Homo sapiens: one gene and its partners. The protein of the gene in region 7 purifies or fractionates together with the protein of the main gene of each other region. This does not show direct contact. Each region holds a gene or a part of one and is shown on either strand. Other genes may lie near its edges. The genes, in order: GREB1, WDR35, IFT172, DNAJA2, WDR19, TANGO6 and DNAJC7.

Evidence for each region.
Region 1: the proteins of DNAJC7 (region 7) and GREB1 purify together in Homo sapiens (affinity purification with mass spectrometry; 2 studies listed by BioGRID and IntAct, with this or other methods). This does not show direct contact.
Region 2: the proteins of DNAJC7 (region 7) and WDR35 purify together in Homo sapiens (affinity purification with mass spectrometry; 2 studies listed by BioGRID and IntAct, with this or other methods). This does not show direct contact.
Region 3: the proteins of DNAJC7 (region 7) and IFT172 purify together in Homo sapiens (affinity purification with mass spectrometry; 2 studies listed by BioGRID and IntAct, with this or other methods). This does not show direct contact.
Region 4: the proteins of DNAJC7 (region 7) and DNAJA2 purify together in Homo sapiens (affinity purification with mass spectrometry; 2 studies listed by BioGRID and IntAct, with this or other methods). This does not show direct contact.
Region 5: the proteins of DNAJC7 (region 7) and WDR19 purify together in Homo sapiens (affinity purification with mass spectrometry; 2 studies listed by BioGRID and IntAct, with this or other methods). This does not show direct contact.
Region 6: the proteins of DNAJC7 (region 7) and TANGO6 purify together in Homo sapiens (co-immunoprecipitation; 2 studies listed by BioGRID and IntAct, with this or other methods). This does not show direct contact.

The regions. Positions count from the first base shown.
Region 1 is NC_000002.12:11,638,545-11,642,044, reverse strand, and holds part of GREB1 (protein GREB1), read right to left. Parts: intron 3,375-3,500; coding exon 3,236-3,374; intron 1,755-3,235; coding exon 1,591-1,754; 3' UTR 1-1,590. UniProt on the Homo sapiens protein: May play a role in estrogen-stimulated cell proliferation. Acts as a regulator of hormone-dependent cancer growth in breast and prostate cancers.
Region 2 is NC_000002.12:19,980,106-19,983,605, reverse strand, and holds part of WDR35 (WD repeat-containing protein 35), read left to right. Parts: intron 1-1,071; coding exon 1,072-1,143; intron 1,144-2,822; coding exon 2,823-2,915; intron 2,916-3,500. UniProt on the Homo sapiens protein: As a component of the IFT complex A (IFT-A), a complex required for retrograde ciliary transport and entry into cilia of G protein-coupled receptors (GPCRs), it is involved in ciliogenesis and ciliary protein trafficking.
Region 3 is NC_000002.12:27,444,744-27,448,243, reverse strand, and holds part of IFT172 (intraflagellar transport protein 172 homolog), read left to right. Parts: intron 1-321; coding exon 322-432; intron 433-609; coding exon 610-729; intron 730-1,762; exon of another isoform or gene 1,763-1,888; coding exon 1,889-1,984; intron 1,985-2,255; coding exon 2,256-2,315; intron 2,316-2,400; coding exon 2,401-2,499; intron 2,500-2,794; coding exon 2,795-2,948; intron 2,949-3,138; coding exon 3,139-3,230; intron 3,231-3,500. UniProt on the Homo sapiens protein: Required for the maintenance and formation of cilia. Plays an indirect role in hedgehog (Hh) signaling, cilia being required for all activity of the hedgehog pathway.
Region 4 is NC_000016.10:46,963,675-46,967,174, forward strand, and holds part of DNAJA2 (dnaJ homolog subfamily A member 2), read right to left. Parts: intron 1,134-3,500; coding exon 937-1,133; intron 1-936. UniProt on the Homo sapiens protein: Co-chaperone of Hsc70. Stimulates ATP hydrolysis and the folding of unfolded proteins mediated by HSPA1A/B (in vitro).
Region 5 is NC_000004.12:39,213,529-39,217,028, reverse strand, and holds part of WDR19 (WD repeat-containing protein 19), read right to left. Parts: intron 2,429-3,500; coding exon 2,358-2,428; intron 1,189-2,357; coding exon 1,016-1,188; intron 934-1,015; coding exon 819-933; intron 1-818. UniProt on the Homo sapiens protein: As component of the IFT complex A (IFT-A), a complex required for retrograde ciliary transport and entry into cilia of G protein-coupled receptors (GPCRs), it is involved in cilia function and/or assembly.
Region 6 is NC_000016.10:68,923,531-68,927,030, forward strand, and holds part of TANGO6 (transport and Golgi organization protein 6 homolog), read left to right. Parts: intron 1-3,500.
Region 7 is NC_000017.11:41,982,940-41,986,439, forward strand, and holds part of DNAJC7 (dnaJ homolog subfamily C member 7), read right to left. Parts: intron 2,969-3,500; exon of another isoform or gene 698-2,968; coding exon 624-697; intron 1-623. UniProt on the Homo sapiens protein: Acts as a co-chaperone regulating the molecular chaperones HSP70 and HSP90 in folding of steroid receptors, such as the glucocorticoid receptor and the progesterone receptor.

The DNA of each region.
Region 1 (3,500 bases), on a different chromosome or scaffold from region 7:
GCATTGAGGGTAGGCAAGTGGGAGAAGGGAGACCTGGACTGCAGAGTCCAGAAGCCAGAACTTTGAACTGTGCTTCTAGCTCTTTCCAGCAGTGAGAACTTGGAAAGGTAGACTCTTTGCATCTCAACCTTCTCATCTTTCAAAGGGGATGAATAATTCCAATCACACAAGAAAGGACTGAACAAGATGAACAAGATGATCACTGTCCAGGCGCCGGGCAATGGGTGGCCTCTCAACTGTGGCTTTAAAAACCATTCTGGGGCAGGCACGGTGGCTCACGCCTGTAATCCCAGCACTTTGGGAGGCCGAGGCGGGCGGATCACGAGGTCAGGAGATCGAGACCATCCTGGCTAACATGGTGAAACCCCGTCTCTACTAAAAAATACAAAAAATTAGCCGGGCGTGGTGGTGGGCGCCTGTAGTCCCAGCTACTCGGGAGGCTGAGGCAGGAGAATGGTGAGAACCCGGGAGGCGGAGCTTGCAGTGAGCCGAGATCGCACCACTGCACTCCAGCCTGGGTGACAGAGCTAGAGTCCATCTCAAAAACAAAACAAAACAAAACAAAACAAAACAAAACCATTCTGTCAGTCTGTGAAGGGGTGAGCCCTAAGAAATACATCTCCCTGCCTCCTTCTCTCTTCTGTTCCCACCTCCTCTCTAGTCAAGTGAGATTCTTCCCTGAGGAACCAAACATTAGTAAGAGAAAATGAGCTACTTCAGCAACTGAAAACTAAACTCTAGTAAACTACAGTCATAAGTCTAGTTCTCATCAACTATTTTATATATCACTTTGGTTGTTTTCATTGTCTGTTTCAAGTAAGCAATGTGGTCCTTTCTCCTTTGTAAGGCTAATTTTAGGTCAACCTCTGTTAGCCTTATTTCCTCCCCGCCAACTCCCCCCCCAAAAAACCCTTTTAGTTTTAAAGAAAGCTTCTTTGCATTTTTGCCCTTTCTAAGAGGTAGGGTATTTACCCTATATTATTTTAATAGGATCATATTTGCTCTGAAGTAAATCAATTTGTTTAACTTTATTAAATTTGATGCCTTTGGGCTAGCCTCTGAAACAGCAAACTTATAGGCAATTAAATAATTGTTATTAAAACGATCTACTTATTTTTTCTTGTCTCCAGCCTTTACAGTTAAAATGTTCCTTTGGAATATTGCTTTGTAGGAGGTTACAGGGGAACCTACTTGGCTGAAATCCCATCTACTGAAATACTGGCACCGCTACAAAATAACCCAAGATTCTTTAGAACTAAGAGAAAAAAATCAGGTTTGTCCATGGAAGCACACGAATGGCAGGACAGGAAGTAAATCTTTGTTCCTCGTGAAATGGGCTTTAAAACAGCCCAGAGCAATGGGCTGGCCCAGAACTTGGGAGTCTCAAGTTTTCATTCTCACCCACTGCGGAGTCTTCCTGGCTCCCAGGACCACGGCCTCGGGGGCCCATGTGTACTAGGAGGGGCTGCACCTGGACAGTCCCTGGGGTCCATTCCAGTCAAACGCCCCACCGTTCCAGGCCTCCCTTTAGCCTCAACAGCATGAGGGCTCTGAGCACTCATCTCTTCAGAAAACTCGCCGCTGTCTTCCTCAGATGTGTCGTCCCGTCAGAAAAAAGAGCGGCCGGTCTTCCCTGGCATTGGCGGTCTGGAACTCATCGCGCAGCCGGAACTGCCACTCGTCCTCGAGCTCCAGGCGGACGACCGTCTGGCGCAGTGAGCTCCGGTCCTGACAGATGACACACAACGTCGCACCTGCGTGGACAACGGCAGAGGTGTGGGAAGGGAAAAGGTGAGTTTATCCAGAGGAAAGCGGCTGCCCGGATTCTACTTGCAATGACAAGACAGGGCGCTGTTGGGAAGGGCAGAAGCGGCATCCAAGTCGGCCCCTTGCTTCTTTCGGGATGATGTACAATCTTAGCGAGACAGGAGTGTGGCTGGGATGTGGCAGGTGTGCGGGGGAGAAAACACGGAGGCAGAAGGAAAGCCGAGCAGGGACTGAACCGAGGTGCGGAGAGGAAGGAGAGAGGCTGGTGGAATCGCAAACCAAGCATCCTCAGCCCCAGCCGGTAGCTCACATACCCCACCCTACCTACCCCACCTTACAGCTTCATCCCCCTCTTCTGCCACCCATCCAGGCCTGGGGCAGCCCCCACTGTCCCACGTGCCAGCCACAGGAATTCCCCTTCCTCTCAACTCCCAGCACCTGGCGACACCTCAACCCAGTCTCCTCCACACTGTCCCTCTCTGCTCCCTCCCCACCTTTGTGTCCAGTCCTCCCTTTAGATGAAATGTTTCCCAAGGCAGAGACTGCTGTAAAACCTCTTGATCTTTCCCAAGGCCTTAGATGCTGCTGGTGCTCATTCAGTGCCTGCTAGAGGGGAAGGTCAGAGCCAAGGGCCACCAAGGAAAGCGAAGGTCAGCTAGGGATCTGAGCAGGACTGGAAATGCAGACTGGAAATCGTGTTTTCAAGTCATGCAGAACAAGTGCTTGTCATTCTCAACCAAGCTGGTGCAGACAGGAGGAAGACTGGCGTAAAAGCCAAGGTGGTGTGGCACCTCCCAGGATGAGGAGAAAGACTCGTCTACCAGGAGGAAGAGTGTCAGCAACGACTGGGACACCGATGTGAAGGATTTGGGTTGGAAAAGAACACACATGGCTGGTGCGGTGGCTCACGCCGGTAATCCCAACACTTTGGGAGGCCGAGGCAGGTGGATCACCTGAGGTCGGGAGTTCGAGACCAGCCTGGCCAACATGGCAAAACCCTGTCTCTACTAAAAATAAAAAATTAGCTGGGTGTGGTGGCGGGCACCTGTAATCCCAGATACTCGGGAGGCTGAGGCACGAGAATCACTTGAACCCAGGAGGCAGAAGTTGCAGTGAGCTAAGATCGTGCCACTGCACTCCAGCCAAGGTGACAGAGCGAGACTCCATCTCAAAAACCAGAAAGAAAGAAAGAAAAGAAACACAAAGGCTAAAAAATGTCCGCAATTCATCTAAAAGAAAGGGGGATGTGTCTTGCCTCTACCCAAACAGGTATAGGGGAAAGAGAGCCCCCGGGGATCAAATCCCAGCTCTCTTGCACTTCCCTGGGTGGCTGAGGCAGTCACTTCCCTCTCTGATCCTCAGTTTACCCATGGGCAAATAAGGACTAGGACCAAAGGTCCCCTCCTCAGGGTACCCGGTGACTACAGCCATTGAAGACAAGGTGCAGAGTTAAGAGTACAAAAGTTACCTTTCAGAAAATGAAACTTTTTCAAAAAGCTAGCTCCCACAAAAGAGTCACAGAGGTACAGCAGCAGCCCACTGAACAGCAAGTCCGAGCAGCTGATGTTTAAAGAGTGGGGCCTGGAGCTCACATAGCAAACAGAAATCTGAAAAAGAAGAAATCCAAGAGAGGGCACCGTTTTCTATGAAATGCTCAGTAACATTATACTACAGGTTTGCACCTAGTAAATACCAACTGCTTGGTCCAGCTCAAGATTTTTGGGGGGCCAGAG
Region 2 (3,500 bases), on a different chromosome or scaffold from region 7:
CTTAAGATCTTCATAACATTTGTATTTTAAATGAAAATTTTAAATGCTATGTTTTATGTGTAACAGATTTCTAAGCCAAGATTAATTTATTGAGATGACATTTTAATATTCTCTGTAGGATGGTTAGTAAATTTTTAAGACGTCTTTAGAGGTTTTCATTGCACTTTGGATAAAATCTAAAATTCTTATCATTTTCTACAAATACTTCATAGTTTTTCTTGTGCCTATCACTCCAGCCTTGTTTGATGCAATTTTCTCCCCTGTTCATCCACATAGGCCTTCTTAGAGTTTGTCAAGGGCTCTAGTTGTCTACCTCAGAGCCTTTATGTTGCTGTGTCCTAGCCTGGAATACTCCCCTTCTTTCTCTACCTTTCCTGGCTATCTCCAGTTTACCTCTCAGTCTCAGCTTAAATATCAGTTCTTCTGATAGCCTTCCCTGGTTCCCCATCAATCTAAATTAAGTCACTTCTGCTACTCTTTCTTATTATGCTTTCACATTCCCAGTTTATAGTTACATTTATGTGTATGTGAGTATATATTTAATATTGGTCCCTTAGACTGAAAGCTCTGAGAAGAAAGGGGAAATGACTGTTTTGTTCACCATTTTATATGTAGAACCTTTTGTAATGCATAGCACAGTGTACACATTTCATAAATATTTGTTAAATGAATGAATAAATGAGTGAATATAAGATTCTGTGTAATCTAGTAAAAACCCATTTTCAAAGTCTATGCTCTTTTGATCCCTTGTAAGCTGTAGAGTTTTCAATCTGTAGGCCATAAATATTTCTATTTGTGGTCTTTTGGAAAGGAATAAAAAGCAGTGATGATTATTAATATATGTAATGTATGAGTAAACAATCTTCATTTATATATTTTGCTTTATTTTACCAGAATATCTTTGCAAGGGGTATGTGTTATTGTTCATGTTTATACCATGAGAAAAATATATCAGAATGGGGCATACTTAGAAAAATGATTAATACTGCCCAGGAATACAAAAAGAGTCAAAATCTTATAATATGTCACTTTTACATATTTATCATAGTAGTTTGTTTTGTTTTGTTTTAGATGATGCAAAATTGAGGGGCCTTGCAGCCCCCAGTAACCTTTCTATGAATCAGACTCTTGAAGGTCATAGTGGTGAGTCATTCAATTTCTTTTAAGTCATGTTTGAGTGGTATTTAGGCATTTAGAAAGTTTCTACTTAATGCAGAAATGTCAACATTTTAAATAATGGTAATATTTACAGTACAGATGCTCTTTGAGTTACGATGGGGATATGTTCCAATAAACCCATTGTAAGTTGAAAATGCATTTAATACACCTAACCTACTGAACATCGTAGCTCTGCCTAGCTTACCTTAAATATGCCCAGAAAACACTAGCCTACAGTTGGGCACAATCATCTGACATAAAGCCTATTTTATACTAAAATGTTGAATATCTTATGTAACTTATTGATTTCTGTACTAAAAGTGAAAAACAGAATGGTTGTATGGGCACTCGAAGTACGGTTTCTACTGAATGTGCATTGCATTCCCATCACCGAAAAGTCATTTAAGTAGTACCATTGTAAGTTGGGAGCTGTTTGTAATCATTTCTGTTGAGACATAAGTAATACAACTTAGAGTCATTCAACTTTTACATGATTAAACAACATCTTAAATAAATCTAGAAGAAAATAGCTGTTTTTAATATATTGAAAATACTCCTGTCTATGGATGTTGTATATATAATCCTTTTTAGAATCTGTCCTATGATTCCAGATTAAAGGAGACTGAAGAGACTGGGTGTAGTGGCTAACACCTATAGTTCAAGCACTTTGGGAGGCCAAGGTGGGAAGACTGCATGAGGCTGGGATTTTGGAACCACCCTGGGCAACATAATGAGACCCTGTTTCTACAAAAAATAAAAAAAATTAACCAGGCGTGGTGCTGTGTGCCCGTAGTCCCCAGTACTCAGGAGGCTGAGGTGGGAGGATCGCTTGAGCTCATGAGTTGGAGGCTGCAGTGAGCCATGATTGTGCCACTGCATTCCAGCCTTGGTGACAGTGCAAGATCCTGTCTCAAGAAAAAAAAAGACTAAAGACTGAAGATGTATAACAACTAAATGCACTGTATAATCCTAGATTGGATCTTGGAATGAGAAGAACAAGTGTCTATAAAGGACATTATTTGGACAATTGGTAAAATTTGTATATGGACTGTGAGTTAGATAATAGTATATCAGTGTTAAACTTCCTAATTTGTAATATGATTATGGAAGAGAATGTCTTTATTTTTAGGAAATGTACACTAAAGTATTTAGGGATTAAAAAATTAAAAGTCATCAATTATTCACGTACCCTAGAGGTTTAAGATATGCTCAAGAGTGTTTTACTAATAGAATGGAAAACGAGTGAGAGGTGGGCAGAAGAGAGATTATAGGACATATCTACCAAAAATGATAAAAGTCCCCTAAACAAGTACTTGTTATGGTGTCCTTTGAACATCATTATTTTTGGGAGTCAGGCCAATTGAGTAAACCATGCTTGTATTTGTTTCTGTCATCAGGTATATGGTAGTTCTGGTAGCTAGCCATGATTGGTGTCTTTACTGGGATGAAATAGGGATAGATATGAAAAATAGTATTATGCATTGTTGTAGAAAATTAGTGATATCAATAACTGCATCTTATGAATAGGTTTTGAGGAATATTAAAGACTAGTTAGCTGTACAGGAACCATATTGATTTTAACATGATCTTGGTGTTTATATAAAAATGTGAATTTGAAATTAATTGTAACCTTTAAGTTTCTAAATTGTTTTATAATGTTCTAGGTTCTGTTCAAGTTGTAACATGGAATGAGCAGTATCAGAAGTTGACTACCAGTGATGAAAACGGGCTTATCATTGTGTGGATGTTATATAAAGGTATACTTTACTAGGAGAGATTATTTAATTTTTCACAAGTTGGCATCTGGATCACAGTATTTGGATGGGTAAATAACATCTCCAAAATAGACCCCTTTTACTAACAACAGGAGTTCATCCTGACTGCACAGTGATAATATTTCTGGATTTATTGCTGCCTACTTTTCACTTTTTTAAAACTTTAACCCTGTTATTAAGAAAGTGAATTAGGTGACTGTTGGCCATCTCCAAAATGAACTTAGACTCTTAGCAGAAGAATAGCTTCTACTTGAGATAAGTCTTTTTTTTTTTCCAGATTTCCAATAAGAATTACTTCTAGGTAGTTCCAGTTTATAATTACATTCATGTGTGTGTGAGTGTGTATTTAATATTGGTTCCTCAGTAGACTGTAAGCTCTGAGGGGAAAGGGGAAATGACTGTTTGTTCATTTTATACGTAGAACCTTTTATAATACATAGCACAGTGTACATGTTCAATAAATATTTGTTGAATGAATGAATAAATGAGTGGCTAGAGTTATCTCAGTAGATAAAAACACATTTAGTAAGAAGTCAAAGGGAATAATTCACTTCCTGCATGGGCCAG
Region 3 (3,500 bases), on a different chromosome or scaffold from region 7:
CCTATAGTCCCAGCTACTCGGGAGGCTGAGGCAGGAGAATGGCATGAACCTGGGAGGCAGAGCTTGCAGTGAGCCGAGATCATGCTACTGCACTCCAGCCTTGGGCAACAGAGCAAGACTCTGTCTCAAAAATAAATAAATAAAATTAAAAAAATAAAAATAAATAAAAATAAAAATCTGCCACTGTCCCCCAGCCCTTGCACACACACACATACCCATTTCTACACACAAAGCCTGTTTCTCCTCCCTTTGGCCCCACTTCCAGTGACTTTCTCTTCTAGCTATGCCCTTCTCAGATCCCCTTCTTCCCTCTACCTCTAGAACTTCAATATCTACAAAAGGATCTTCACTGACATGGTGAGCTCTCCTGGAACCAACTGTGCCGAGGCCTATCATAGCTGGGCTGATCTTCGAGATGTCCTCTTCAACCTGGTGAGGAAGCGAAAGGGCTGCTCCGTCTGTCCTTGTCCTCATCTCTTCTTTGATGCACATAAACCTTTATTCTCAGATGTATTTTACCTTCCTCTGCCAGGTGGCTATCAGAGACCACTCTATGGCCCTGGCACTCCTCTGACCCCTGAGCCAGGCTGTGCTGTCTCCCTCCTCTAGTGTGAAAACCTGGTGAAGTCCAGTGAGGCAAACTCTCCAGCCCATGAGGAGTTCAAGACGATGCTGCTGATCGCTCATTACTATGCCACGCGCTCTGCAGCCCAGAGTGTCAAACAGCTGGTGAGATGTAGGGGGTCGAAGGAACACTCAGTCAGAAGGGCTCATCTGCAAATGTATAAAGCTGAATTGATTCACGTTCTGGATTCTTCAGCTTGGGCTCTTGAATCTCCCCACCTGTCTTTCAGCTTCTCTTCTGTCTAAACAAATCTTTAGCCCTTGCTGAGGTTTTCTTCTTCCGACCTTTTTAGGGCTCTGTGCCCACACAGCCTCAGCCTCATTATGTTTAAACATCCAAATCCCATGATTTCTTTATTCACCTCTTATAATGTACACATATTCTGGGCTTATTTTTGACTGTTCACTGTATATTTATTTCATGTACTTGGATGATAGAATTCTAGAAGTGGAAAGAACCTTAGAAACAATCTAGGTGGGTGGGTGTGGTGGCTCACCCCTGTAATCCCAGCACTTTGGGAGGCCGAGGCGGGTGGATCACTTGAGGCCAGGAGTTCGAGACCAGCCTGGCCAACGTGGTGAAACCCCATCTCTACTAAAAACATAAAAATTAGCCAGGTTGGCCGGGCGCGGTGGCTCACGCCTGTAATCCCAGCACTTTGGGAGGCCGAGGCGGGTGGATCATGAGGTCAGGAGATCGAGACCATCCTGGCTAACAAGGTGAAACCCCGTCTCTACTAAAAATACAAAAAATTAGCCAGGCACGGTGGCGGGCGCCTGTAGTCCCAGCTACTCGGGAGGCTGAGGCAGGAGAATGGCGTGAACCCGGGAAGCGGAGCTTGCAGTGAGCCGAGATTGCGCCACTGCAGTCCGCAGTCTGGCCTGGGCGACAGAGCGAGACTCCGTCTCAAAAAAAAAAAAAAAAAAAAAAAAAAAAAATTAGCCAGGCATGGTAATGTGCGCTTGTAGTCCTAGCTACTCAGGAGGCTGAGGCACGAGAATTACTTGAATCCGGGAGGCAGAGGTTGCAGTGAGCTGAGATGGCACCACTGCACTCCAGCCTGGGCGAAAGAATTGAACCTAGGCCCAGGTGTCTTGTTCAGAGAAAAAGAAAAAAAAAACTAAGACCCAGAACAGCTTGAGAATCCAGAGCAGTTTAATAATAATTGTTGTTTTTTAGTTCTGTGGCTGCCTTACAGGATCATTGGTCTGGTAGCTCAGTCACTTTAGTGCCATATTCATAATGCTTTGACTTTAATCCCAGGAAACCGTGGCTGCCAGGCTTTCTGTTTCACTCTTGCGTCACACCCAGCTACTACCTGTAGACAAAGCCTTCTATGAAGCAGGCATTGCTGCCAAGGTGAGCTGGGACAAGGAAGGGTGGGGCAGATAGGAGGAAGTTAAAGGTTGGAAAATAGAATATCCCTTCTGCTCTGGTAGAGGAAAGCTGAGTGTAGGGCTGATGTTACGGAGGATGTAGTCCTCCTATGTCTTCCTGGATTTTTCTCCCTGGATCCCAGAGAAATAGCATTCAAGCCCAGCTTGCTCACTCCCATTTGCATCTGGATCCCAGAGAAGTAGCATTCAAACCCAGCTTGTTCACTCCCATTTGCAACTCTTCTTTGCTGCAGGCAGTTGGCTGGGATAACATGGCATTCATCTTCCTCAATCGCTTTTTGGACCTGACCGATGTGAGTAGGGAAGCTGTGCCCCGAGGGTGGAGGTTTTTGCCAGTCGCGAGCTGTGCCTAGTTCATGGTTGCCCACTCTACTGCAGGCAATCGAGGAAGGGACTCTAGATGGCCTTGACCACTCTGATTTTCAGGATACAGACATTCCCTTTGAGGTGCCACTCCCAGCTAAGCAGCATGTACCGGTAAGGGCACAGGGTTGGAAAACCGGAAGGCCTCACCAGTGTGAGTGCCTTGAGGAGGGAGAATATCTTTGTGCTGCCATCTTTGGAAGGACCTCAGCCCTCACTGTTTTTTCAGTGAAAGTAGAAGCAAAATAGAAAGAAAAGGCTGTGACTGCATCCCCCAATCCAAGGAGGATTCGTGGCTAAAAGCTGGTATACAGGATGAGGGCTTAGCAAACCCCCTCCTCACCCATCCACCCCAACTTGTCCTGCCCTGCCCTGTGTGAAGCTACCACTCCCTTCTTGTCCTTTCCAGGAGGCTGAGAGAGAAGAGGTTCGAGACTGGGTGCTTACAGTCTCCATGGACCAGCGGCTGGAGCAGGTTCTGCCTCGGGATGAGCGTGGCGCCTACGAGGCCTCCCTAGTGGCAGCGAGCACTGGTGTTCGAGCCCTGCCCTGCCTTATTACAGGTATAGAAGCCTACAGCACCCCAGATCCTGTGGTGGGTAGAAAGCAGCAGGATCAATAAACTTAATTTTACTAGGATTCAGTAAAGGGTACAAAAGACAGGACTGTGCTTTCTACCCCCCAGGCTGCTCCTCATTTTTCCCTCCTCAATCTCTCTCAAACCCCAGTTCATCATTTTTTCTTCCTCCACAGGATACCCCATTCTGAGGAACAAAATTGAATTTAAGCGGCCAGGGAAGGCTGCTAACAAGGACAACTGGAATAAATTCCTTATGGCCATCAAGGTTAGAGAGGAGGACTTGGAGAATGAAGGCAGAGAGGGCAGCACTAAAAAAAGAAAAAAAAACAAGTCTGGGTGCAGTGGCTCATACCTTTAATCCCAGCACTTTGGGAGGCCAAGGTGGGCGGATCACCTGAGGTCAGGAGTTTGAGACCAGCCTGGCCAACATGGTTAAAACCTCGTCTCTACTAAAAATACAAAAGTTAGCCGGGTCTGGTGGCGTGCACCTGTAATCCCAGCTACTCAGGAGGCTGAGGCAGGAGAATCGCTTAAA
Region 4 (3,500 bases), on a different chromosome or scaffold from region 7:
GGGCGACAGAGCAAGACCATCTCAAAAACAAAAACCCCCCAAAACATACACTAGTGACCACATTCTTCAGAAGCTTCTAAAAAAATATTTTTTTTAAAAAAAATCCCAGAACCCTTTCAAGGATAGCTCACTTGGGTACCCAATAAGTAAAAACCAAATCGACAGAGCAGCAGAGTTTCACAGTGAAAATACAGGCTGCCTTAGATCAACTGGTCCAACACCCAGTGCCCTTATTTTCATAAACAAAGAAACTGAGACAGTAAGATTACCTATGGTTAAAGTGTTAGTCAATGACCAGGCCAGAGGAGAATCGCTTGAACCTGGGAGGTGGAGGCTGCAGTGAGCCAAGATCGTGCCACTGCATTCCAGCCTGGGTAACAAAGCAAGACTCCGTCACACACACACAAAAAAGACCAAGGCCAGGCGCGGTGGCTCCCGCTTTTAATCCCAGCACTTTGGGAGGCTGAGGCAGGCAGATCACCTGAGGTTGGGAGCTTGAGACCAGCCTGACCAACATGGAGAAAGCCTGTCTCTACTAAAAATAAAAATTAGCCAGGAGTGAAGAAGCATGCCTGTAGTCCCAACTACTCGGGAGGCTGAGGCAGGAGAATCACTTGAACCCGGGAGGCAGAGGTTGTAGTGAGCCGAGATCGCACCATTGCACTCCAGCCTGGGCAACAAGAGTGAAACTCCAACTGAGGGGCAGGGGGAAGAAACCAAGCCAGGACTAAAACTGACTCTTACAGTGCTTCTAACTGCACCTGCCTTGTTAGTCTTTCTTACACAAGCCCGTCTTAGGAACTCACCATGATGCCCTTAACTTCACCAGTGTTCAGTGTTGCTCCAGGGACTCCAAACAGATCTAACCTATTTCTCACAAGCAAGAAGTACTTCTGAATAAAACAAAATACAAAAAACTAAAAAAAGGAAAATCACCTCATGTTCTTTCTCCTGTAGCAAAAGAACAATGTCTCCGGGTTCCACTCCTGGGGCCTGGTCTGCTTCCCCAGTGAATGTAATTCTCTGTCCATGTTTCATGCCTTTGTCTACGTGGACTTCAAGAATCTTGACTTCTTTAATCACCTTCTTCCCTTCACATTTTTTACAGCGGTCTTTTTCATTAATTACCTCTCCTGGAAAGAGAAGTCATTGAAACTTTCAGCAAGAGTACTATACTGTACTCTTAATACCCTTATTCTTTAAATATGCTTTCTGGACTTCTTTTAATCACTACCTAAATTTTTATTCAAAGCAGCATTCTGAGGCCAAGCACAGTGGCTCAAGCCTGCAATCCCAGCATTTTGCGAGGTCAGGGTGGTAGGATCACTTGAGCTCAGGATCTGAGACCAGCCTAGCAACACAGTGAGACCTTGCCTCTACTACAAATAAAAAAAGTTAGCCGGCGTGGTAGTGCACACCTGTAATCCTGGCTACTGGGGAGGCTGAGGAGGGAGGACTGCTGGAGTTCGAGGCTGCAGTTAGTTATAATCATGCCACTGCACCCCAGTCTGGGTGACAGTGTGAGGCCATGTCTCAAAACAAAACAAAAAAAAGCACTATTCTGAATAACAAAAACTTACATCTTACTACTGCAGACTGCCTGAAGGACTCAGCTTCCCACTATTTCAGAATGTAATGTATCCATACCATGTTTAGGGCAACACAGCTTTTCTCTTATAATTATGGTATTAAAAAGCAAAACCGTGATTATACATATTATAGTGTGAAAAAACTGCGTCACTTTCTAATGGCTAATTACCAGCACATTTGAAGGCTTAGAAAGAAGTGTATAACTGATTATTTAGGGACTGTTTCTGTAACAGTACTTGTGCAAAGTATGTTCTGCAAAACACGTTCTTCAAAATGGTAATAGTGGCCGGGCATGGTGGCTCACACCTGTAATCCCAGCCCTTTGGGAGGCGAAGGCGGGAGGATCACCTGAGGTCAGGAGTTTGAGACCAGCCTGGCCAACACGGCAAAACCCCGTCTCCACTGAAAATACAAAAATCAGCCGGGCGTGGTGGCAGGCGCCTGTAATCCCAGCTACTCAGGAGGCCGAGGCAGCAGAATCACTTGAACCAGGGAGGCAGAGGCTTCGGTGAGCTGAGATCACGCAACTGCACTCTAGCCTGGGCAACAGAGCAAGACTCCGTCTCACAAAAAAAAAAAAAAAAGAAAAAAGAAAAATGTAATGGTACATGAGAAAGATTTCAGTTAACTTTGGTTTCTTGATAGTGGGAGTTAGCAATTATAATAAAATAAAAGCAGGCCAAGAGTGGTGGCTAACACCTGTAATCCCAGCCCTTTGGGAGGCTGGGGCAGGAGAATTACTTGAACCCAGGAGTTCGAGACCAGCCTGGGCAACGTGGCAAAACCCCATCTCTACAAGAAATACAAAAATTAGCTGGGCGTGGTGGCAAGCACCTATGGTCTCAGCTAATTGTGGGGCGAGGGGCTGAGGTGGAAGGATTGCTTCAGCGTGGGCGGTGGAGGCTGCGGTGAGCCGAGAGTGTGCCACTGCACTCCAGCCCAGGCGACAGCAAGACCCTATCTCCAAAAATAATAATAATTTAAAAAAATAAAGTAAAATGCCAAGACTCTCCAGGAAGGAAATATCATATGTAACTTCTCATAATTATCTCATCACTTCCAATAGCAATTTGGAAAAGGATGCTATTGAACTATACTGTCAAATATGGTAGCCACTATCAACCTGTAGCTACTTGTTTATGTTTAAATTAATTCAAATTTAAAATAGTTCTCCAGTCACACTAGCCACATGTGAAATATGCAGTAGTCACAGGTGATTAATGGCTACTGTACTGGACACTGCAGATACAGAACATTTCCATCATCACAGAAAAAAATTCTATTGGATAGCACTGCTCTAGAATGGCAGGGGTGGGAGGAGCTATGTGTTTTTATAATTAAAATTTTAATCAGAACACAGCCATATCCATGTGTCTGTGGCCATAAAAGCACTAAAAGGTCAGAGATGAGTAGTTGTGACAAAAACTATTTGGCCCACAAAGACTAAATTATTTACTTCTGTAAGGACAGCTTCAATCTCAAGATCAATTCTGAAAAGCTAACTAAAGGTTACAGTGAAATCTTCCACTTATCAGAATAACTAAACAACTACTTGTTTAGTTATTTATTATTTGATTATTTGTCCCTTTGTAGTTTAAAAGGTTCTATGTGATAAAGGAGATAGTCCTCCTATGGTGGTCATTCCTACAGAGAGAGTAAATAAAAGGTTATATTTGATAAAGAAGGAAATAGCAAAGGGACAAATAATCACCTTGCTCCTCTTTTCTGAATTAAAAAGAGTCACCTTTCACTAACACAATACAAATCTACTGTTTCTCTATGTTCACTGGGCTTAGGCATAATGGAGTAATTACTTTCACACTTTTATCTTTTATTTTTTGCAACAGGGTCTTGTTCTGTCACCCTGGCTGAAGTGCACTGGTATGATCACAGATCACTGCTCCCTCGAA
Region 5 (3,500 bases), on a different chromosome or scaffold from region 7:
TTAAAATTTCATTTTAATCTTAAATGATTAAATAATTAAATTGAATCTTAAAGATTAAATTTCATTTTAATCTTAGTTGCCATATAAATTTGCCTTCAGGCATTCCATTATGGTTTACCTGAAACAAAGTAATAGAAAATAAAATTATATGCAAAACAATTAAAGAATTAAACCTTAAGTTGCAAGAAACTTAATGGTATTTCCTGTTTAACAGGTTAATTTTCAGGTTTGTTCTATTCCTGAGGGTTATCTGACCTAGAATTGGGGAAAGGTGATGGGGAGGAGGCAGGGGAAGAAAAAACAAAACAAGGTTTTCCTCACATGCTAATAGCTATTATTCAAAGAATAAAAGGGGAGACAGAACTAACATTTATTAAGTACCCACTAGGTTTAAGAGTGCTTAAAAAAAGTCACTGTGCCAAGTGAGACCACGCATTTTATTTAATCTTCCTCATGATCCATTAAAAGTAGAAGTATCCTCATTTTCCAGATGAGTAAGGCTCACAAGTGTAAAATGATTTGTCTATAGTCACTTAGCTAACAGAGGCAGAAGGGGAAATTAAATCCAGGGCCTCTCTAATTCTGAAGCTCACATTCTACCCACTATGCTATGCTGCCTTCACTACAAAGGTAAAGAATAAAAGCTTTCTAAAAATTATGCAAATTTTTAGAAGACTTACAAAACCATTTAAGCTAAGAATGAGATATGTGAATAAAAAAGAGTGAAAGACTTGGTCCTAAAAGAAACTTGCAGTGCTTCCCAAATAAGAACAGAAATTATGTGCTAGATAAGAATAAACAACTGGATTTAGACTTGCCATTTTCTCCAAGGACATAAAACCAAGCTCGATTATTCATTCCTACAGCCAGATGATAAAGACCTACTGCCACAAAGTTGGGTTCCACATCAACAGAAACTGTGATTGGTAGCTCCTATAATAAAGAAAATAGTAATAAATCAACGGCTAAACTTATTTTATTAATAAATAAAAGAAAAATAACACCATTTTCATACTCCTTCAACAGGGTTGGCTACGGTGACTTCAAGGAGGGAGGTGAGATAGGCAATCCTTGTGCTGCAGGCATCCCCAAGTATGGGAAGCTTGGTCAGGAAAACATGAAGTGAGCCCCTTTGGGTAGAGAGTGCTAGCAACTGGCCATCATCAGTCCAGGACAAGGTACCCAATCCTGAAATAATCGACAAAATAAATGATTATTCAAAAACAATATATAGTTGCAGGCAGCAAACAAATATTTTCATTTAAGCTACCAGAGACATAACAATTTTCAAATATTTTCCTTACTAGTTTAAGTAGTTTTTTTTTTAGACTAGGAAATTTGCCATGGATTGGCATAAGAATATGAGCACTGGCTCATTCCCTGTGGCTCAAAGGGAAAGTACAGTTATGTGTCACTTAACAACAGGGCTATGTTCTGAGAAATCTGTCATTAGGTGACTTTGTTGTTGTGTGAACATCATAGAGTGTACTTACACAAACCTAGATCAAATAGCCTACTACGTACCTAGGCTATATGGTATAGCCTATTGCTCCTAGGCTATAAGCCTGTATGGCATGTTACTGTACTGAACACTGCAGGCAAATGTAACACAGCAGTAAGTACTTGCACATTGAATCATATCTAAATATAGAAAATGTACAGTAAGCCTGAGCAACAAAACAAGACGCTGTCTCAAAAAAAAAGAAAGAAAGAAAGAAAGAAAGAAACAAAGAAAAGGTAGTAAATATGGACCATGTATGTGGACTGAAACGTCATTATGTGGGTCATGACTGTATATAAGAATTTATACTTTACATTAGAATTAGGATAAAATTCACTATAAATCTCTGGATCAAAGTAGACATATCTTTCTAGTCAAGCAGTATGACAACATAATTACTAAAATAAGGAGACTATTTTAGGGAACTCTAGTGAAGAGTATTAAAATTTATTTCTGGCCAGGCACAGTGGCTCACGCCTATAATCCCAGTACTTTGGGAGGCCAAGGCAGGCGGATCACCTGAGGTCAGCAGTTCGAGACCAGCCTGGCCAACATGGTGAAACCCCATCTCTACTAAAAATACAAAAATTAGCTGGGCGTGGTGGCACGTGCCTGTAATCCCAGCTACTTGGGAGGCTGAGGCAGGAGAATAGCTTGAGCCTGGGAGGTGGAGGTTGCAGTGAGCAGAGATCATGCCATTGCATTCCATCCAGGGCTACAAAACAAGAATCCATCTCAAAAAAAAAAAAAAAAATTATTCCTCCTACAACGAATGCAAATCACACGATAACAAACACAACCTTACTCTCTGTAACTGGAATGATAAAATGTCAATCTGCTTCAGAAAAATCAATACCTTTATTTTCCTCATCCAGGTTGAGTATAACATACATGTCTTTTAAGTCAACCAAGTCTTGGATTTTAATGCTGAAAAACAAAAATGCATTATTAAAAAATATATATGATCTTTATATAAAACTGTTTTAATTCACAAAAAATTACAAACCATGGAATAGGTTACTGGTCTCCAAAATGTGATGTACAGAATGATCTACTGGGTTAAGAAAATATTAGAATTTCTGTACTTCATTATATTTTATCTTTAAACTTTTGGGTTTGTTGTTGTTGTTTGTTTGCTTACTGTGTGCAGAGATGGGGGGCGGGTAGGGTTGTGCCTGGCTTAATCTCTGATCTATAGCTTCAGGAATAAGGAGGTTAAAATTGTCCTGAAGAAATTTGGGTACGAAAATATTCTCCTGAGTAGTATTAATTATTGTAAGATGATACAGGTTTCTCTTTACAATGTGTTCCCTTTCTCCCCTGCCCAGAGTTCTTTCATACAAAAGGAAGTGAATTATAGTATAGAAAGAACATTAAATTTGGATCAGAAGGATCAGGTTGAAAGCTCTGAAAAATGCGGGCATAACATTATTTCATAAGGTTGTAGTAAGAATAAGTAAGTTGATGTAAATGAAAGTTGTGTAGTACAATGTTGGGAACTAATAGTTGTAACATTTCTTTCCTCCTAACCTCCTTTTCTCCTTCTCTTCTCTTCCAGTGTTTTCCTCTTACCTTTTTTCCCTCATTATTTTCATTTAATTAAACTTTTAAGATAATTTCAGATTCACAGGTAGTTGTAAGAGGCAATATAGAGAGATAGAGAGATTCCATGTCCCCTTTTCTCCCAATAGTAACATCTTGAAACACTATAGTATAATACCACAATCAGGATACTGACATTGATAGAAACCACAAATCTTATTCCGACGTCCCTAGTTTTACTTGTACTTAGTGTGTGTGTTTACTTGTACTCAGTGTGTGTGTTTAGTAACTTTCTCACACATGAGATTCATGAGACTCACAACCATAGTCAGGATATAGATAGTTCCATGACCACAAGGATCTCTCATGTTGCCTTTTTATAAACACTCACCTCCTTCCTTCTGACCCCAGCTCCATCTCTAACCTCTGGGAATCACTAATCTGTTCTTTGTTTTTA
Region 6 (3,500 bases), on a different chromosome or scaffold from region 7:
TTCACCGAGCCCAATTTGGGTGCTCTATAGAACTGCTTGGGAAAATTCCCATTATTTCAAGCTGTTATATAGAACTCCAAAGAGCAGACAATCCTTCTTAATTGCTGTTGCTTTCAAGCAGCCTCATTTAGAGATGTCTTACTTTCTGCCATATTTAATAAACCTGCCACAGTAGGTACTTAATTAACAGTTTTTGAATGGATGGATAAATGGAAGGAAGAAAGAATAAAAGGAAGAAAGGAAAGGTGATGTCTAATGAAGGAGGCATGATTTGTTTTGTTTTGTTTTGTTTTGTTTTGTTTTGTTTTGTTTTTTCAAAAGGGCATGAGCTCAAAAAGTTGAAAAACACTGCCCTCACCCATAGTGAGCAACCTCCAGATCTGGGCACACCCATGGGAGTGTTGTGAATGTTAGTCATGTGTTATCAGGGGCAAAGGAGAGCCATGCTTCTTGTTTTCACAGGCTTTCACTTGATTATCCTCTAGGTAATCCAGTCTTTTATCAGAATTTCCCTAGAGTGGAGAGGCATCCTTCAACTGCTTGTATGCAGGTGATCAAACTGGCTAAAAAAGCCCTTACTTGCAAACCACAGTGCCTCCAATTTTACAACTTAAAAAGAAAATGACTTTCCAGTTAACTAAGCTGACTAGTTCTCTCTAATTCTTTTGCTTTTGAGATTAAACCATCTATTTCTGGAATTGTCTTCATTGTGCTCATTTATACACATCGTTAAAGATTTTCAGAGCTTTGGCCAGGTGCCAGTGGCTCACGCCTATAATCCCAGTGCTTTGGGAGGCCGAGGCAGGAGGATCACCTGAGGTCAGGAGTTCCAGACCAGATCAGCTACTCGGGAGGCTGAGGCAGGAGAATTGCTTGAACCCAAGAGGCAGAAGTTGCAGTGAGCTGAGATCACACCATTGCACTCCAGCCTGGGCAACAAGAGTGAAACTCCCTCTCAAAAAAAAAAGGCTCCTCAGCTGGGCACGGTGGCTCATGCCTGTAATCCCAGCACTTTGGGAGGCTGAGGTGGGAAGATCACCTGAGGTCAGGAGTTCGAGACCAGCCTGGCCAAAATGGCAAAACCCCATCTCTACTAAAAATATAAAAAAATTAGCCGGGTATGGTGGCGGGCACCTGTCATCCCAGCTACTTGAAAGGCTGAGGCAGGAGGATCGCTTGAACGTGGGAGGCGGAGGATGCAGTGAGCTGAGATCATGCCATTGCACTCCAGCCTGGGTGACAAGAGCAAAATTCCGTCTCAAAAAAAAGAAAACAGAAACAAACTCCTCACATAGCTGCTGCCACCCAGTGCATTTCCCTGGACAACCCCAGGGGCTAGATGTTCAATGAGTAAATACCCCCATACAGGTTGTGGGCACCTGGTTGTCCAGCCCGAGGCCAGGGATCCCAGGTCACACCCTTGATCAGGGAGGGATCAAGGTGCTTCTGCCATGCCCAGGATTGAGAACTCTGTGGATGCAAAGAGGGGTGGGTGGGAAGCCTGGTGTGGTGGCTCACGCCTGTAATCCCAGCATTTTGGGAGGCTGAGGTGGGCGGATCACATGAGGTCAGGAGTTTGAGGCCAGCCCCGGCAACATGGCAAAACCCTGACTCTACTAAAAATACAAAAATTAGCCAGGCATGGTGGCCGCACCTGGAGTCCCAGCTACTCAAGAGGCTGAGGTGGGGGAATCGCTTGAACCTGGGAGGTGGAGGTTGCAGTGAGCCAAGATTGTGCCATTGCACTCCAGCCTGAGCAATAGAGCAAGACTCTGTCTCAAAAAAAAGAAAAAATTGCAATTCCCTAATGACTTATGACATTGAGTATGTCTTCCTATGCTTATTTGCCATCTGTATATCTTCTTTGGTAGGGTATTCTTCTTTGGTAGACCTATCTGTTAAGGTCTTTTGCCCATTTTTAAGTCAGGTTGTTCATTTTCTTATTGAGTTTAAAGAGTTCTTTGTATATTTTGGATATTAGTCCTTTTTCAGATATGTCTTTTACAAATATTTTCTCTCATTCTGTAGTTTGTCTTCTCATTCTCTTGACAGTTTCTTTTGCAGAGCAGACATTCTTAATTTTAATAAGGTCCAGGTTTTTAACTATTTCTTTCATAGATCATGCCTTTGCTGTTGTATTTAAAAGGTCATTGCTTTTAAGAGGTCATCTCAATTTTCTACTATGTTAACTTGTAGGAGTTTTATAGTTTTGTATTTGACAGTTAGGTTTATGATCCATTTCAAGTTAATTTTTGTGCAAGGTGCAAGGTCTGTGTCTAGATTCATTTTTTCACATGTGCATGCCAGTTGTTCCAGCACCATTTGTTGAAAAAACTGTCTTTTCTACTGACACTTGTTCCAATTAAAAAAAAAAAAAAGAAAAAAGAAACTGTATTTTTTTTTCCATTTAAAGCCTTTGCTCCTTTGTCAAAGTTCAGTTGACTCTATTTATCTGGGTCTATTTCTGGCCTTTCTGTTCTGTCCCATTGATCTATTTGTCTTGGCTGGTTTTTTTTTTTAGAAGAAATTGTTATATAGAAGAGAAATTAAAAAAGAGGCCAAATAGACTGTAGGTAAATTATTCTCATTTTAGATGCTTTAAAAAAGTCCATGATACAACCGAGGCACTGAATGAAGTTTAGCATAATGATAATACTAGTATAATTATTTGAAAATGTCTCGGCCGGGCACCGTGGCTCATGCCTGTAATTCCAGCACTTTGGAAGGCCAAGGTGGGCGGATCACCTGAGGTCCGGAGTTCAAGACCAGCCTGGCCAACATGGTGAAACCCCGTTTCTACTAAACTATAAAAAATTAGCCAGGCATGGTGGCGTGTGCCTGTAGTCCCAGCTACTCGGGAGGCTGAGGCAGGAGAATGGCGTGAACCCGGGAGGTGGAGGTTGCAGTGAGCCGAGATTACGCCATTGCACTCCAGCCTAGGCAGCAGAGCGAGACTCCGTTTCCAAAAAGAAAAGAAAAAAATAAAAATAAAAAGGATTTTTTTTTCTTTTTTTTGAGACAGAGTCTCGCTCTGTTGCCCAAGCTGGAGGGCAGTGGCGTGATCTCAGCTCACTGCAACCTCTGCCTCCCGGGTTTAAGCGATTCTCCTGCCTCAGCCTTCCGAGTAGCTGGGACTACAGGCACATGCCACCATGCCCAGCTGATTTTTGTATTTTTAGTAGAGGTGGGGTTTCGCCATGTTGGCCAGTAAAAAGGACTTAAGATCCTTAAGGTATTCAAATTTTCAGGGTCTCCTGAAGCCTCATCTGATAATTTCTCCAGTGTTTTCAAACAGAAAAGTATTACCATTGATTCTTACTTTTCATTGATCACACATACACCTTTTGGGTGGCAGTGGGTGAGGGGGGTGCTTTCCAGTGAAGACCAGAAAACCTGCTAGACAAATTCTAATAGAGCTGTAACACTCATGCACCTTTCTTAGTAGTAAGGCATATGACATTATTCAGACAAAGCTTCCATGGAGAATAAAATGTTATATA
Region 7 (3,500 bases):
ACAGAGCAGGACTCCATCTTAAAAAAAAAAAAAAGAAAAAGAAAAAAGAAAATCTACCCAGACTTAGGTTCCTCACTTTAGCCTCACCACACAAAAAATGAAATGAAAACGACAGGGAGGATCTGGAACCAGAAAATAGGTGCCTCATGCCCCAACCCAAGATATCTGTTCACTTTTTTTTTCTTTTTTTTGTTTTTGTTTTTGAGATGAAGTCTCGCTCCGTCACCCAGGCTGGAGTATAGTCGCGCAATCTTAGCTCACTGCAACCTCCGCCTCCTGGGTTCAAGGAATTCTCGTGCCCCAGCCTCCTGAGTGGCTGGGATTACAGGCGTATACCACCATACCCACAATTTTTTGTATTTTCAGTAGAGATGGGGTTTCACCATGTTGGCCAGTCTGGTCTCCAACTCCTGATCTCAGGTGATCTGCCTGCCTCAGCCTCCCAAAGTGCTGGGGATTACAGGCGTGAGCCACCACGCCCAGCCTTTGTTCACTTCTTTCTGGCTGGTGATCAAATAAGTTCTAGGTAGATCCCTGATCCCTGAATCAAACTACCTTGTGTACAGATTTATGGCCTACGAAGTCCACACAGTTCCCTAAAAAACAAATGCTTTTAAACTTACCTTTTGTTTTCTCTGTCTGGTATACTTTTTCATAGTCTCGTACTGCTTCTTCATACTGTTCTGTGTCCATGTAACTGAGAAGGAAATACAAGGCAATACAGCACTAAGACATAAATAGCAGTGGTTCTCAGGATCACTCTAGGGCAAGAGGCATGGCTCAAGCAAGAGACACACACTTCTGGTAAGATGCTTCAGAAACAGGAGCCCTTAATCTAGCAGTGAGAGAAAATTAGCTAACAAGTCCTCAAGGAAATAAAAAGAGAGGTCGCATGGCACTTGCATCCAACCAGCAAAGTGATGTTCAGCTTTGAGCAGAAAGTAATCAAGAGGAAAAAGTTCCTTCTGACACACAGCCACCTAAGAGGTACTGGACTGCCTTAGAAAAGACAATGTGAAGGGATCTACTTGATTACTTTGGGTTGAAACACACAAGAGAAAAATTATCAAGTGAATAAATGGGTATGAAAGAGCTTTGAAACCTATAGTGCCATAAACATGCAGGACTAGCTACAATCCAGAATAGAGGTGGGATTAGTGAGCCACTAAAAGGATCAAGTTCAACGTGGCAGCTGCTGGCAAATCCCTCCACTAAGACCAATCAATGAGAGATGCAGGTAAATGAGACAGAAAAGGGAACTCTAAACACAGGTTTGCTTCTATTTCAGTAGCACAAAAGAAAGGAGGGGCCCTTGGCCCAAGATCGGAGGAATCAAGCTTGACAGGATGATTGCGAGATCTTTTTTTTTTTTTTTTTTTTTTGAGATGGAGTCTCGCTCTGTTGCCCAGACTGCAGTGCAGTGGTGTGATCTCGGATCACTGCAAGCTCCGCCTCCTGGGTTCACGCCATTCTCCTGCCTCAGCCTCCAGAGTAGCTGGGACTACAGGCGCCCGCCACCTCGCCCAGCTAATTTTTTATTTTTTTTTTTAGTAGAGACAGGGTTTCACCGTGTTAGCCAGGATGGTCTCCATCTCCTGACCTCGTGATCCGCCTGCCTTGACCTCCCAGAGTGTTGGGATTATAGGCGTGAGCCACCGCACCCGGCCGACTGCCAGATCTTTTAAGTGTCTCTTCCACAGAAGCAAGTGGCATTTTCCATGCCCAGATAAAATCACTGGCACCAGGGCTGGCCTACCAATTGAAGACTGTGGTAGGAGTTCCAGAGACAGCCACTGTCAGCTGGGGAATGGGAAGTGATCATGCAGTACAGCTAGCTGCTGTACAACAGAGATTCAATTTCTTACCTGCTACCACACAAGCCCATTTTCTTTCTTTTTTTTTTTTGACACAGAGTCTCACTCTGTAGCCCAGGCTGGAGTGTAATGGCACGATCTCTGCTCACTGCAACCTCCGCCTCCCAGGTTTCAAGTGATTCTCCTGCCTCAGCCTCCTGAGTAGCTGGGATTACAGGCATGTGCCACCACACCTGGCTAATTTTTTGTATTTTTAGTAGAGATGGGGTTTCACCATGTTGGCCAGGCTGGTCTCGATCTCCTGACCTGAACCGATCTGCCCGCCTCGGCCTCCCAAAGTGCTGGGATTATAGGCGTGAGCCACTGCGCCTGGCATAAGCCCATTTTCACAAACATCACAGATCCCCACCAGCTTGGAGGCCAGGGCAGGAGAGTGCTACCAATGTGGCTGGCAAAAGAGAAGCCCAACATCTTGGGCATCTTTGATTTTCTGGCATCATTTTGATTTATGACTTTAAAAAAACCAATGGCCTGCAAATACAGGACATAAATATTATATTAGGAGTTCAGAATCAATGTACAGAATAAAATGTAATAATTTGAAGTAAGAGAAATGATACTTTGATACTGCACTCCAGCCTGGGTGACAGAGCTGGATCCTGAATTAAAAAAAAAAAAAAAAGGAAAATTGATAGCTGATAGCCCTGGGTATAGAATGATGTGACAAATGATTAACCCTGATGAACTTTCTTTAGGTCTATATGTAATGTATTAAACAAACTATACTAATTTGCATTTTTACTTCATGCTTTTTAAAATTCAGGGATATCCTCACATTTTAATTTTGTTTTAAAGTTGAAGTAGAAAAGTAAATAGGGCTTTAAGGAGAAAGGGTGAACTCTAGCTCATGATGGCATGTGTAGCAAAGATGTGGGTGGGTGGCATCTCCCCAGCTTTAGGGGTAAGTTGAGGCAGACTGCAGCAGTAGTCAGGCCAGATGTAAGGGTTTGGCCCGAGCTAATCTCCAGTACTTCTTGTCAATTCCAGCTGCTTCAGGAGATTGTTGCCAAATATTCAGCCAGCTGAACAGGGCATGCTGTCTCCCCTGTAGTGATCTCAGAGGCAGAGCCACTCCAAGAAGGGCAGTTCTGTTTCTACCACAAAGATAAGAAGTTGTCTGATCAAAGCAATTCCTTATTTTCATTTCTTGCACATAAACAAAGAAGAAAATAATCCTTCATCCAATTATCCTCCGAGCAAATCAAGAATTTTCTATGGTGTTGGGGGCTTGCTTAAAAAAAAAAAAAAAAAAAAAAAAAAAAAAAAGGCCGGGCGCGGTGGCTCACACCTGCTGGTAATTCCAGAACTTTGGGAGGCCAAGACAGGCAGATCACTTGTCATCAGGAGTTTGAGAACAGCCTGGCCAACATGATGAAACCCCATCTCCAATAAAAATACAAAAATTTGCTGGGTGTGGTGACATGCGCCGGTAATCTCAGCTACTTCGGAGGCTGAAGCAGGAAATTCGCTTGAACTCAGGAGGTGGAGGTTGCAGTGAGCCAGTACGGTGCTACTGCACTCCAGCCTGAGCGACATAGCGAGACTCCATCCCGAGCGACATAGCGAGACTCCATCCCAAAAAATAAAACAAAGCGATTTTTCTCTTCTCTTCCCATCCCCTGGCAT